Linked DNA regions of Homo sapiens: region 2 is reported to be linked to region 1. Evidence: microRNA targets listed by miRTarBase, many of them from high-throughput screens and not tested one by one. Region 1 holds a microRNA gene; the other region holds the end of a gene's coding sequence.

Evidence for each region. The annotated mature microRNA hsa-miR-3117-5p reads AGACACUAUACGAGUCAUAU and lies in region 1 at 1,237-1,256, shown strand. An mRNA with a match to its seed (bases 2 to 7 or 8) in the 3' UTR can be bound and repressed. Matches are read on the target gene's strand: a 7mer-m8 pairs with bases 2 to 8, a 7mer-A1 pairs with bases 2 to 7 and ends in A, and an 8mer does both.
Region 2: the mRNA of ORMDL2 is a reported target of hsa-miR-3117-5p. Seed matches in the 3' UTR shown: 7mer-A1 at 1,393-1,399.

Annotation. Positions count from the first base shown.
Region 1 is chr1:66,627,216-66,631,366 of GRCh38, forward strand. MIR3117 (microRNA 3117) reads left to right here and starts at 1,225; the gene lies at 1,225-1,302. All of the region lies in intron 2 of SGIP1 (SH3GL interacting endocytic adaptor 1), which reads left to right.
Region 2 is chr12:55,820,008-55,824,007 of GRCh38, forward strand. ORMDL2 (ORMDL sphingolipid biosynthesis regulator 2) reads left to right here. Exons shown (of 4, transcript NM_014182.5): 4 at 253-1,872. The coding sequence ends at 388. It overlaps DNAJC14 (DnaJ heat shock protein family (Hsp40) member C14), which reads right to left. Exons shown (of 7, transcript NM_032364.6): 3 at 3,395-3,501; 4 at 3,063-3,182; 5 at 2,565-2,725; 6 at 2,366-2,468; 7 at 978-2,180. The coding sequence ends at 1,970. Among named protein-coding and RNA genes, the nearest start is that of ORMDL2, 4.0 kb to the left of the region's middle.

The sequences.
Region 1 (4,151 bases):
AAAATCTCATATTTGGATTGATGATCAGTGATGCTTCGGGGTGGGGGAGGAGACTTGAGTTTGGCCTTCAAGAAGATGAGGATGTGTATTTCATGCAAAGGGAACAACAAAAGCAAAAGTGGAAAGGTAGTAAAGTCCACTAGGCATTTACTGACAAGACAAATGGGGCAGTTTGTCTACTTGGGGTTACAGGTAAATGTGATAATGGAAGGCAAGGCTGGAAAGGAGACCAGGACCAGATAGGAAGGGCCTTAAGTACCAGGCTGAAGTGTGTGGGCTACTTCCATAGGCAGTGGGCCACCTTGAAACCATGAAAGTTTTTAAGCCAAAGAGTGCAAAGGATTGGGCGAACAAAGTTATTTTTTGTCTAGATGCCAAATGTTAAGTTCTTATATTTTCTTTTTGCATTTTCTTTTGTAACTATTTATTTCAAGAATATTACATTTACTGTTGTCCTGCAAATTTTTCTAAATAATTAAGTTAGCAATATTTTTCTGAGGATTATATAATTTACATTGTTTCTTAAGAAGTTTGCCATTTTCTTTCTTATACTTTAAGTTCTAGGGTACAATGTGCACAACGTGCAGGTTTGTTACATATGTATACATGTGCCATGTTGGTGTGCTGCATCCATTAACTCGTCATTAACATTAGGTATATCTCCTAATGCTATCCCTCCCCCCTCCCCCACCCCACAACAGGCCCCGGTGTGTGATGTTCCCCTTCCTGTGTTCAAGTGTTCTCATTGTTCAATTCCCACCTATGAGTGAGAACATGTGGTGTTTGATTTTTTGTCCTCGCGATAGTTTGCTGAGAATGATGGTTTCCAGCTTCATCCACGTCCCTACAAAGGACATGAACTCATTATTTTTTATGGCTGCATAGTATTCCATGGTGTATATGTGCCACATTTTCTTAATCCAGTCTATCATTGTTAGACATTTGGGTTGATTCCAAGTCTTTGCTATTGTGAATAGTGCCACAATAAACATACGTGTGCATGTGTCTTTATAGCAGCATGATTTATATTCCCTTGCCATTTTCTAATCATTAACCACCCAGAATATGTGATGATGCCTTCACTAGATCAGAAGACCTGGGCTGTAGTCCCAGCATTGCCAAAACTCCATGGCTTTGGGAATTACCCTTTACTTTGCTGGGCCTCAGTTTCCACACCTGTAAACAACAACAACAAAGAAATTTACACTAGATGGAATCGAATTTCCCTAAAGGGCCAGACACTATACGAGTCATATAAGGGAAGGCATTATAGGACTCATATAGTGCCAGGTGTTTTGTGGGACACTATTCGATGGATCTCAGGAGAACATCGTTAATGGAAACCAAATCCATTTCTGAATGAAGACAATGTCTGTAATTGACTGCACCAGAGATTTCTGGCATGTGAGGAAAGTTGGAATGGAAAAAAGCTTTCTCGAGAGAGAAAAGGTTGAACAACCTCTACAGGGCAGGCTGAACTAATTTACATGTAGCCAAAGCACTACTCTTCCATCATCATTTCTAAAGTTATTAAAATAACTGAGTTATTCCTCACAGCTACGGGTAGAGGCCCAATATCTCTCTGAGGTACTCTAACGAGACATTTGTTTAAAGAATCCCAAGTATCCTTCCTTAACTTATCATTTGAGAGTCCCAAATTACTTACGTGATAGCAAAATAGCTGAAGCTGGTTCCACCATCAGTGATGGTCAAAGGACAAGCTGTTTAGTATGTTTAGTATAAGCCTTTGCTTTTCATGAACTCCCTAATGCTTTCGTGAACTCTGTAATTGGATCATATATCATTCTCAGAAAAGAAATCATAAATGCAAAGGGGTTGGGAAAGCACTCTAGCAATTTGCTGTCCCTTCAGCTTTAGTAAATGCTTGTGTTTGTCTGTGATCATTGAAGCCTTGTTGATGCAAACTGTTTTCAGGGCTGCTACAACTCACTGTGGGTTGCTCAGCAACCTGCTAGGGTAGACACACCAGCACCAACTTCAGCTGATTGAACCTCCTAAGATATACAGTGGGGTTAGGACCAGAATTTCCTGATTTGGTCATCATTACAGCAGCTGATAGAGGAAGGGAGAGAGGTTGTGCTAAGTGGAAGGCCCTGTGCAGGACATATGTTGCGCTGATATCTTTTTTAGTCTTCCTAGTAATTAAATAAGGTTAGCAGTAATACATCAATTTTAAAGAGAAATATCAGTGCCAAAGGGGGATAAGTAACTTTCTGAAGGCTACCCACAAACTAAGACTTGGAGGCCATATTCTAGTCTAAAATCCAGTGTCTGTGCTTTCATCACCCAAAAGAAAAGATATCAATGGGTAGAATTAAAATCCAGACAGATAGGAGGGTAAAAAAAAAAGACAGTAGTTACAAAAGGTAACTGAAACTTTAAAATATAGATGCCAAAAGTCCATGGTAGATGATTCTTTTTAAAATAGAAGTCAGCAAATACAATAAGTCTGCCATGAAAAAGAAAAAAATTATTTTAAAATACAATATAAAACCTCATTAGAGGGGGTTAGAAAGTGAAATTAGAACACATGCCCAAGTGTCTGAGGCTGCTAAAATCTCTTCACTCCCTAACCTGGGTCATAGTGTATAAAAATTATTATTCTAGAAAACATTTAATGAGCATTTACTATGTTCTAGAGACTGTCTCAGGTTCTTCACTTATGTTAGTCCACTGAATCCTCTAATAGCCCTATGGGATATATGCTGTTATGATGGCTATTTTATAGATGAAGAAACTGAGAAACAAAGGGGTGAAGTAACTTGCCCAAGCTTCTGCAGCTAGGAAATCGACATTGGTTGATCCCATGCAGTCTGGCACTGGAGCCGGTGCCCTTAGCCACCATGCTGACTGACTCCACAGGACACATGAGCCACATTTCCATCAGTCGAGAAGACAAAGGATCAGAATAGGACTCCAGTGCTGCTATGTACAATCACAGTTTCTCTGATTAAAAATTGTGGAAGACCATCCCAACGGCTGCAATAAGCATGAGGTCAAATGCCTCCCATTTAAGATCCCCTACTGATATGACCTTGTACCTGGATTCACAGTGAGCAACACCACAGCCAGGCCAATCTCCGAGCTTTTGCCGCATCTATTTCTTGCTGTTCCCAAAGGCATCTCCACATGGATCAGTGCCTCTAAACACATCCTACCCAAAAGTTGATGCAATCACTTCTCTCCCAGCTCCATTAGCAGAGGTTGAAGTCCTAGTAAGAATTACTCATATGTGGAGATATTAAGTCCTAGTAAGTTGAAGTCCTAGTAAGAAATACTCAGTATATTGGCCAGGCACCGTGGCTCACACCTGTAATTCCAGCACTTTGGGAAGCTGAGGTAGGTGGATTACCTGATGTCAAGAGTTTGAGACCAGCCTGGCCAACATGGTGAAACTGCTTCTCTACTAAAAATACAAAATTAGCTGGGCGTGGTGATGCATGCCTATAATCTCAGCTACTTGGGAGGCTGAGCCAGGAGAATCACTTGAGCCTGGGAGGCAGAGATTGCAGTGAGCTGAGATTTTGCCATTGCACACCAGCCTGGGTGACAAGAGCAAAACTCCGGAAAGAAAGAAAGAAAGAAAGAAAGAAAGAAAGAAAGAAAGAAAGAAAGAAAGAAAGAAAGAAAGAAAGAAAGAAAGAAAGAAAGAAAGAAAGAAAGAAAGAAGGGAGGGAGGGAGGGAGGAAGGAAGGAAGGAAAGAAAGAGAGAAAGAAAGAGAAAGAAAGAAAGAGAGGAAAGAGAGGAAGAAGGAAGGAAGGGAAAGGAAAGGAAGGAAGGGAAAGGAAAGGAAGGAAGGAAGAAAGGAAGAAAGAAAGAAAGAAAGAAAGAAAGAAAGAAAGAAAGAAAGAAAGAAAGAAAGAAAAAAAGAAAGACTGACTCAGTATATAGATACAAAAAGAGAATTGGCTTTGATGAGTATGGATTGGTACCTATCCTCAGTGCTCTCCTGCTAGCCTGGGCTTACTATGACCATGATAACCCACTGGATTTACTCACCCATTTCATTCTCTCTGAGATTAATATGTTTTCATTATTTTTATCCTTTGGTCCTAACCAATCACCTGGCTCATTACAAGCACTTTTGTTGGCCAAGATTCTTCCTATCATTCTATTTTAAATAAAATTT
Region 2 (4,000 bases), not on the chromosome of region 1:
AAAACTGGTCATTTAAAATAGAAGAGAAAGAGCAGGGCACTGTGGTGCATGCCTGGAGTCCCAGCTACTTGGGAGGCTATGGCAGAAGGATTGTTTGAGCCCAGGAGTTTGAGGTTGTACTGCACGTATCACACTTATGAATAGCCACTGCACTCCAACCTGGGAAACATGGTGAGAACTGTCTCTTAAAAAAAAAAAAGAATATGGATAGAGAAGGTCAACCTCACTCACCCTATTTTTTTCTCTCCCCAGCTATCTCCTGGCCAGCTTCTATACCAAGTATGATGCTGCGCACTTCCTCATCAACACAGCCTCATTGCTAAGTGTACTGCTGCCGAAGTTGCCCCAGTTCCATGGGGTTCGTGTCTTTGGCATCAACAAATACTGAGGGATGGGTTTTGGGACAGCTCCATGGGCATGGGGAAGGCACTGAAACAGAGGACTATAAAACATCCTTCTCTTATTCTCCATACTGTCTTCTACACCTTTAAAGCCTGAGAACTATACAACCTTTCCCAGACTCCCAAGAAGAGAAGAGATTGGCAAATGGGGCTCCTGGGCCCAGTCCTGCTAGTGGCAAGTTTCTTTGAATCAGGAAGGCAGGTGAGGTAAGGGCCAAATCACTCTCCTCCATAGCAGGAAGCCATTTGGGCAGCTTCTTTGGTGATTACATCTTTCCATATCTTTTACACTTACCACCTTCCAGCTCTGTTTTGCTGTGTATTTTTCTTACAATAATTTTTTTCAGCTATAGCTGCAGTTTAATCAGGATGGGTAGAGAGCTGTCCTCATAAGGCTGGGGGTGGGAAGATGGAATACTGACCTAATGTATAAAACTTAAAACAATTCTCCAATCCCCTCTCCTTTGGTCCAGTAGGAGGTGCCCTTCACTCTAAGCTTAACACTTAGTAGGGAAGAGATTCTCAAATGAGAAAAAGGGCTCCGGCTATATGGGCAACAAAGAGGGAAGATACAGGTTGCCAGTTATACATTTATAGAAAGATAATCCCCTGGCTTTAAATAGTCATGTACATACAAATATGAACAAACTTAAAAAAAAAATACAAACCCTTGGATCACATGGGGGCTTCTGGGAACCCCCGTATTCTTCCCCCTCACCCAAGGGCAGTGGGCATGAATCTACTTTTTAAAAATGATTAATTTTGGCCATCCTTGCAGAAAAGAGCCTAAAATTGGGTGATTTACCCACAAAGTGAAAGTCGAGGGAAAATTCAGTTTCCAGTCTCTGAACTCTATGCGATAATCTCCTATCATTAGGGCTACATGCTTTCTTGTTCTCTTTTAAATATTATATCAGGATAAAGGAGAGGGCTCCCTCCTGAAATGGGTCAAGAAAGAAGATAGACTTGTAGCTTTAAAAGGGTGGGAAAAAGTGTCATCTGCCCTAAAAGCAAATGACAAGACAAAGGCATACAGACCCCAGGGAAATACCCAGTTCCCACACCTAAAGGGATACACTGTCCAGCCCAGGTCCAGGCCCTAGGTTCTTTACTCTAGCTACCCCCTATTTCTTTGGTATTGTCAAAAGACAAGATTCAGGCCGGGCACAGTGGCTTATGCCTGTAATCCAGCACTTTGGGAGGCCAAGACGGGTGGATCACCTGAGCTCAGGAGTTCGAGACCAGCCTGGGCAACATGGTGAAACCCCGTCTCTACTAAAAATACAAAAAAGAATTAGCTGGGCCAGGTGTGGTGGTGTGTGCCTGTAATCCCAGCTACTCAGGAGGCTGAGATGGGAGAATTGCTTGAACCCGGGAGACAGAGGTTGCAGTAAGCTGAGATCACACCACTGCACTCCAGCTGGGCAACAGAGCAAGACTCCATCTCAAAAAATAAAAAGAAAAAGATTCAGTTCCTAGGTGTTGGGGGAGGAGGGATAAATCAAACTCCATCCTGTGCTACAGCCCTTTTGACTCCCTGACATTGATTTGAGGAAAGAGAAGGGGCATCAACGTTGGAAGGGCCTCCTCACTTTCTTCCGCCGCTTAGGTTTGGCTTCTCCCTTGGGTACTGTGCTGTTGGGCTTAGAGGCTGCAGCGGCTCCAGGGGCAGGCTGAGGAGCTGCAAAGAAGTTCCCATTGGGCATCTGCCCTGGGGGTACTTGAAAGATCCGACTCAAGAAATCCTGAAGATCAGCAGGAGGGGCATCTGGGGTGGCTCTGAGGTAAAACAGAAGAAATAAGGCAAGAGATGTTAGAGTCATATGGTTACCTAAGTTAGATATACTTATCAGTTCCCAAACTTCCTAGAAAACAAGGCCCCTGGGTGTCCTAAAAAGCAGGTCATCTGAAACCGTATTCAAAACTGAAATAGTGGATAGATTATTGACAGAAATACCACCTACCTCTGCCGCCCTCTGGTGCCTGGAATCCGAGAACCAAATGAGATGTGATAGGGGACTCTGTGGGTATCTGGGGAGATACCTACACGCTGGCATCCAGCCCACTCTATAAACATGAGAAATAATTAGCCAAAACGTCGCAGTTTAGAGCACATAAAAGATCAGGAAGTATGAGCCTGTATTTCTAGAGGACAGAGAGTACCTGTGATGTCATACACCTTTCCATCCATCAGTGCAAAGTAGGTGATCTTGAGGCCCAACATGCTTGACTCTGCCCAAAAGTCTCCTTCCTCAGCAGGATGCAGCCTATTACACTCAGCACAGTATCTGGCACTCTTAGGTTCCCGGTCCATTTCAAACCTCCTGCAACCAACAAAAGGATAGTTCCTTAATAATTTGTCAAGCCTACCTAGGGCACTGCTAGTAGTCTTACCATTATTCACAAATAGGGCTGAAACATCTAAAATTACCCCACTTAGTATTTCATATCCCTTCAACGTTCTATCCTAAAGCTAATGTTTCTTAGTGCTAATTAAAATCGTCAGTCTATTGACAATATGACAAAGGTAGAAACTTAAGGGTCTTTTTACTAATTATGAGATACAGATGTAACTCATAATTACCAGTACTCACTAGAAAGATCCTTGGTTACATAATCCCTGAGCTGTGATTGTCCCATCCCTCTCCTTCTATTTCATACCTATGCTTTCCTTGGCATCGGCTACACATCATAGTATTCATTGCCTCCTTGAGGTCATCTTGCAGCTTGGACAGAAACTCATTTACTGACCGGCTCAGCTCATTCTCTGCCATTCGTTTCCTAATAGAAGAAATGCTTTGTAAGTCAGAAGGTATTGAGGGAGGGACAAAGGAAGACATATCAGTTGGCCTCTTGAGGCCCCTGTCTAGCGAGAAAGACAAGTGACTTCAGTTCTCTCCATCTCAACAAGCCTCCACCCCCAAGTCCAGATGCCTCTGCTATTGAGGATTTTTCATTTACCATTATCTGATGATTTCCCATCTCCAACTTACATCTCATACTCCTTTCGCTTTTCAGCATTGCTGACAATGTCCCAAGCTGCTCGCAAAACCTTGAAGGCCTCCTCAGCCCGGGGATGATGATTTTTGTCAGGATGAACCTACCAAGACAGAGAGATTTCATTACAAATCCATTCCAACCCTCTCCTCACCTTGAATTTATTCTCATATCAAAGGGTTCTCTTTCATCACCCTTTTGAAGAGTCAGTGTAGCTTAATGATTAACTGCTCTGACTCTGCAGATCTGGTTCAATTCATGGCTCTGTTATAATTAGCTACATTACCTTGAATATCTTTTTTTTTTTTTTTTTTTTTGAGATGAAGTCTCGCTCTGTCACCCAGGCTAGAGTGCAGTGGCACGATCTCAGCTCACTGTAACCTCCACCTCCCAGGTTCTAGCAATTCTCCTGCCTCAGCCTCTCTAGTAGGTGGGATTACAGGCATGCACCACCACACTCAGCTAATTTTGTATTTTTAGTGGAGACGGGGTTTCATCTAGTTGGCCAGTCTGGTCTCGAACTCCTGACCTCAAGAGATCTGCCTACCTCAGCCTCCCAAAGTGCTGGGATTACAGGCGTGTGCCATCATGAATATCTATCA